Homo sapiens: one gene and its partner. The protein of the gene in region 1 purifies or fractionates together with the protein of each later gene. This does not show direct contact. Each region holds a gene or a part of one and is shown in the gene's direction. Other genes may lie near its edges.

Evidence for each region. The genes of interacting proteins can lie anywhere in the genome.
Region 2: the proteins of CHAC2 (region 1) and TOM1 purify together in Homo sapiens (affinity purification with mass spectrometry; one large-scale study listed by BioGRID and IntAct). This does not show direct contact.

What each region holds. Positions count from the first base shown.
Region 1 is NC_000002.12:53,773,101-53,775,703, forward strand, and holds the end of CHAC2 (glutathione-specific gamma-glutamylcyclotransferase 2), read left to right. Parts: intron 1-1,041; coding exon 1,042-1,425; 3' UTR 1,426-2,096; downstream 2,097-2,603. UniProt on the Homo sapiens protein: Catalyzes the cleavage of glutathione into 5-oxo-L-proline and a Cys-Gly dipeptide. Acts specifically on glutathione, but not on other gamma-glutamyl peptides.
Region 2 is NC_000022.11:35,344,844-35,348,579, forward strand, and holds the end of TOM1 (target of Myb1 membrane trafficking protein), read left to right. Parts: intron 1-881; coding exon 882-941; intron 942-2,086; coding exon 2,087-2,126; coding exon of another isoform or gene 2,127-2,129; intron 2,130-2,211; coding exon 2,212-2,366; 3' UTR 2,367-3,130; downstream 3,131-3,736.

The sequences.
Region 1 (2,603 bases):
AAATGCTTTCATAATTGATACTACGAAAAGCATTTATAAAAAAGATCTTCAAATTGGTAACTTATAACTCCTAATTAAACAGTTAATAAACAAATGGCACTTTGTTTCTAGAATTTTTTAATGACCAAGTGAAAGGCTCATATTTTTCATTTCAGTCCCGTTATTAAAGAAAAAGACCAAATTAAAAAAAAATTTTTTTAAGATAAAATATCTTGCTGTGCCTATGATACAAAGAAATTATTCACAATGGAGATTTTAAAGTGCTTATTTCCTTTATTGTTTAGTATGTTCTTCTGTGCACTTTAAGTGAAGAAAAACTGTATTGACTTTTATTTATTTTTTATTTTTTTGAGACAGTCTCACTCTATAACCCAGGCTTGAGTTCAGTGGCATGATCTCGGCTCACTGCCACCTCTGCCACCCGGGTTCAAGCAATGCTCCTGCCTCAGCCTCCTGAGTAGCTGGGATTACAAGTGCCTGCCACTGTGCCTGACTAATTTTTGTATTTTTAGTAAAGACGGGGTTTCACCATCTTGGCCAGGCTGGTCTTCCACTCCTGACCTCGTGATCCACTCACCTCGGCCTCCCAAAGTGCTGGTATTACAGGCGTGAGCCACCGCTCCTGGCCCACTTTTAAAAATATACAAGATACAGGCAGGCATGGTGGTTCACACCTGTAATCCCAGCACACTGGGAGGCCGAGGCAGGTGGATCACTTGAGGTCAGGAGTTTGAGACCAGCCTGGCCAACGTGACAAAACCCCTTCTCTACTAAAAATACAAAAATTAGCTGGGCATGGTGGTGCATTCCTGTAATCCCAGTCACTTGAGAGGCTGAGGCAGGAGAATAGCTTGAACCCGGGAGGCTGAGGTTGCAGTAGGCCACGATCGTGCCACTGCACCACAGCCTGGGCAACAGACAAGACTTCATCTCAAAAACAAACAGAAAAGAATATATGAGATACTCCCTTAGATCACAACCTTTCTTCACCTATTTTAATTAGCCTTATAATACCAGTGTATTCTTTTCATTTTTCAACAGGGATGTGTATGGGGTGTTGCTTACAGATTGCCAGTAGGAAAGGAAGAAGAAGTAAAAGCATACCTTGACTTCAGAGAAAAAGGAGGCTACAGAACCACAACAGTCATTTTTTATCCAAAAGATCCCACAACAAAACCATTCAGTGTATTGCTATATATTGGAACATGTGATAATCCTGATTATCTTGGTCCTGCACCTCTGGAAGACATTGCTGAACAAATTTTTAATGCAGCTGGTCCAAGTGGAAGAAATACAGAATATCTTTTTGAACTTGCAAATTCTATTAGGAACCTTGTGCCAGAAGAAGCAGATGAGCATCTTTTCGCTTTGGAAAAATTAGTAAAGGAACGTTTAGAAGGGAAACAGAACCTCAATTGCATATAATTTAGTCTTCAGAGAATTAACTTCAGTGCACAATGACAATATGATTTGGAAATACGTTTACTTAAAGATCTTATTTTTAATGTAGTGAGGATATTATTTAAACTTTTATTTTAACTGGAAATGTCCTGAAACACATATTTAAAATATTGGGATACAGTGAAAGAAAAATTCAAATTTTAATAACATAAAGATTTCCTAACTTTATGTTATTGAACACTTACTCACTAGAAGTGAGTTCTTTAGAAAAATACAGTGAAGGACTCAGTTCAGTCTTGTTTTTATCAGAGTGATAATCATCCTGTTTCACATCCCAATACTATTTTGAAATTCTAAACAATTAAACCAAAATTCCAATAAATATAAGGTTATGCCTTCAATATATTCCTATACAATTCTGTAACCATGGTTTAAAATACACAAGCTTAAAATAACATGCTTAGAAATACACAATAATATGAACAGTATTTCAGCCTTAATTGTGAATTTCCTTGTTATTCAAGTATTAAATGAAATCTTTTGAGTTTTTAGCCAAAAATTGGCATTTTTAAAATACGAAAATTTCCTTGGAATTATAATGTACTGTACCTCTTCTTTTTTAAATAAAGGCATTTTACTATATGGAAAATAACTCACTAAAGCATAAATTACATTATACAAATCATGATCACTAATGATGTAGTCTGTCATTCACTTTGTATTAATCTTATACCAAAACTGAAAAAGATGGGCTGATACTACAAATTAATGGCACATATAATGAAAATTTAGTTTTTAAAACAGCTTTTGGAATTCTTTGTCTGTCACTATCTCAATTTGTGTGTGTGTGTGTGTATATACATATATATACATATAAAATTTTTTTTTTCTTTGCAGCCTGCGTCTGGCCATCCCACAGGCTGGAAAGTGTAACCTCTGGCAGAAGCCAAGAACAGGCACCTCCTGGAATTATAATTTTGTTTTGTTTTTTGAGACGGAGTATCGCTCTGTTGCCTAGGCTGGAGTGCAGTGGTGCCAACCTCAGCTCACTGCAGCCTTCACCTCCCAGGTTCAAGGAATTCTCCTGCCTCAGCCTCCCGCGTAGCTGGGATTACAGGCATGTGCCACCACGCCCGGCTAATTTTTGTATTTTTAGTAGAGACGGGGTTTCACCATGTTGGCCAAGCTGGTCTCGATCTCCT
Region 2 (3,736 bases), on another chromosome or scaffold:
TCCCATTTCATCCTCACAGCCACCTGGACGGTAAGTACTGCTGCTAGCCTCACCCTAAGGACGAGGGAAATCAGGCGCAGAGAAGTTAAGTAACCCACTCAGAGTCACACTGTGTTAAGGGGTGAGCTAGGTCCAGCTCTTTCTCACTCTGAAGTCTGTGCCCATGACCTCCAACTGGAGTCTGCCCCTGCAGAAGCCGTTAGAGAGGAAAGCCTCCAACTCCTGCCCCTGTGTGGGAGCCATCGTGGCACAGCCCATGTCTTTGTGGCCGAAAGTGAAATGTCCCCATCTGTAGCACCGCCCCTCTGGGTCTACCCACCTGGCCTTGTCTGGTTAACTTCGCGCCTCTGCTCTCAGGCCCTGCTATGCCCCCTTCTATCATGAAATCTGCGTCTGCAGAGACACCAGGGGATGGAACCTGGGGACCCCTGGCCCACTAACCATGTCCCCATCCCAGCCTTCACGGCTGGAGAAAATGCCTGGGGTCTGACCCTGGGCTTGGCGTGTCTTTTGTCAGATGCTCCTGAGCACCTGCAGCATAGCCCCTGCCCCAGGCCATTGCCCAAAGCCCCTCCTCCAGCCTAGAATCCTACCCGAAGGGTGTGTCGGAACTGGGGTTCTTCTCTTCAAGGGGAAGGAGCTCCCTCTGACCCCTGGCCCTGCTCCAGCTGCTGGGAGCCTGGTCCCCTGCTTAGTCTCCTGGCTCTGCACCTCCATCACCCACAGCCTGGCACAGCGGGCCCAGTGGTGGGTCCGGGCAGCTAGGCAGCTGAGGCTGGGGTGGGAGGCTGCCCAGGGCCACCCAGCTGCAGGGTGCTGAGCTGGCACGTCTTCCACCTTGTCACCTAGGGCACTGCCTTACCCTCTGCCCTTCCTTCCAGATCCCAGTCACCCAGGCCTGCCTCATGGAGGACATCGAGCAGTGGCTGTCCACTGACGTGGTATGTTGGGGCCCACTCCTCACCCACACAGCAGGAGGACCCGTTGTTCTCACCAAGAAATGACCCATGGGGCCAGGGTAGACTTATATAGCATATAGCACCCTGAGAGCAGAGGGGCACACTTAAAGTCCCCATCTCCTGCCACCTGCCCACCTTGTGTTTGGCACGCCCCCCAGAGAAGTCCTGGGCACAGTAGCCTCTCGGCTGCTTCCCAGAGCCTGCTCCCAAGGTGAGGTCCCAGTGGGTGTCAGCCCACCTTAGGGACATCAGGCCAGGCTAGAGAGGCTAACCGAGGAAGCATAACAGCGCCAGGCTCTTACCTGCAGTAGCTCAGAAGACTCCAGCCACTTGCAGAGGGAACCCATCACCACCCTGTTTACAGATCAGAAGACCGATAAGCAGCTGTCCTCTAAGGGGAAGCACCCAGGAGGAGGAGGGCGGGTGCCAGTCATGGGGACCCCAAGCCCTGCCACCCTCCCAGGGAGCAGAAGGGGCAGGGCCAGACTCAGCTTCTCCGTCCAGGGCTCCTACCGCAGCATCTGCCACCCCGTCTCTGGGCACCAAGGCCCACATGGGCACTTCAGGCCCAGAAGCCGCCTTCTGCAGGTGAAGAGACCATTTCTGCCCAGGACTAAGCCACAGACCAAGGACTCAGGCTTTCTGTCTGGTGGCAGAAGCCTCACCCCCTCCCTAGTTTGCAGTGTTAGCATGAATGGCCCTCAGCCTCTGGATGTCAGCCTTTCCCCCCCAGGGGTGAGGACCACCCACCCCTTGTGACCCTCCAAGGAAAGGAACCAGCACTCATCAAGGTCCCACTGGGCACCAGGTGCTGGGCTTGGCGTGCTGTGTGTTATCCCATTTCAGCTTCCCAGCAACCCTCCAAGTTAGCTTCAGCCCCCACCCCGCCCCCATTTTACAGAAGGAAAACACAAGGCTCAGGAAGTCAGGTGCCACCCAAGGAAGGTCCTACGGCTCAGGGAGGAGCCCAGGTCCAGGTCCTGGGACCTGGGTGGTGGGGGCGTGCAGAGCCTGAGCTGGGACCCAGTGCTGAGGTTCAGCGGGGCCCGAGCTGCAGCACCACTGCCCCAGGCTGACCGTACTGGGGGCCCGGCTAACCTCTGCCTCCTTTCCTTCTACCTTCCCAGGGTAATGATGCGGAAGAGCCTAAGGGGGTCACCAGCGAAGGTAGTAGTCCCCGCCCCTGCCCGCCCTCTCCTTTCCCCAGGGCTCTGGCCTCAGGGCCTACCCTCACCCTCTCCCCTTCCTCTAGAATTTGACAAATTCCTGGAAGAACGGGCCAAAGCCGCGGACCGATTGCCCAACCTCTCCAGCCCCTCAGCTGAGGGGCCCCCGGGTCCCCCATCTGGCCCAGCGCCCCGGAAGAAGACCCAGGAGAAAGATGATGACATGCTGTTTGCCTTATGAGTGTGGGGTCTGGCACCCTGCAGCCCAGGTCCCCACTGCTCTCACACCCTTAGGCTGGGACCTCCCTCCCTCCTCTGGTGTTAAGGCTGCTTTGGGGGTGGCTTGTTACCCCCTTTTCCTCCTCTTTGAAGACGGAGCTGCCCCAGCTGTGGCTGGGGGTGTGGAGGCAGTGGGATGAACTGGGGGACAGGTCTGCGCTGCAGTGGGATCTGGCTGCTCTGCCTCCTTTCCCACCCCAGCTGACCATGAGACTTTGCTGAGAAGTGGAGGCCCCAGGACAGGCTGGCTGGCTGGCTGGCTGCTTGACCCAGTGTGACTCTCCTTCACTGAGTGATACCCTGCTCCGGGCCCATGCCCCAAGGAGCCCTTCAGAGCCCACACTGCCAGTCGAGGCCTGGCTGGAGGCTGGCCACAGTGGAAATTCTGCCGAGCCTCTTGTCCCTTCCCTGCTCTGCTGCATGGGGCCCCATGGCTTTGGCTGGCCACTGAGGGTAGGGTGTGGAGGTGTGGAGGCCCCCTGAGGAGCTGCGGCGGCCCAGGTACGAAGCTGCAACTCTGCGCGCAGTGGGCGAGATCTCATCAGCCCCAGGCTGCAGGTGAGGCTTCAGGGGATGCTGGGGCCCCACTGCCCCTCCGCTGCCTTGCCCTCCATCCTTCCTCTGTTCCTTCTGGCCGGGCACCACAGCACTGGGGCTCACCTCTTGGTTGATCCTCTTGTACTGGGAGAGGTGCCTTTTGTATCCCCAATTAAAGGTAGAAAACCACCCTGCTAGCAGCATTGTCAAGTCTCCTGGTCAGAAATGACTTCTTGGCCTCACAGAGGCAGCGACTACTTTGGGCAGGGCTGGGGGCCATCCGAGAGGTGAGCATCTGTAGATGGTGCAGGCGGAAGGACAGGAGCAAACACCCAGCTACACTACGCAGGTGCCGCCTCCTCCCACCTCACATGGCAGGCTCCAGCCACCGCCCCTGCCCGGAGGATGCATGCCCTCCCCAGCTGACACCCCTCCCTCCTCAAGGCACCTTCGTGCTGCTGTTCCATGAGGCCAGCTCCTGCCCTGCACAGAGCACACTAATCACAAGGGCGGGGACCTGTGTGGACTGTGTGCGCATGTGGGGTGCACAGGCCACAGGAGGATGCTGGCCTTCCGAGGCTGGGTGCCAGGCACAGCCTGGGGCTACGCACTGGCTCGTAGCATCACAACAGCCTGGGAGAAGCAAAGTGAGCGTCCTCGATGTATAGATGCGGAGACTAGGACTCCATGAGCCGCCCAGCTCAGAGGAGGAAGCTCATGCAGTTGTCATGTGCCAGCATTTCCTCATGCAGAAGCGCATCCTCCCCATTTTCCAGGCACCAAAGCTAAGTTGGG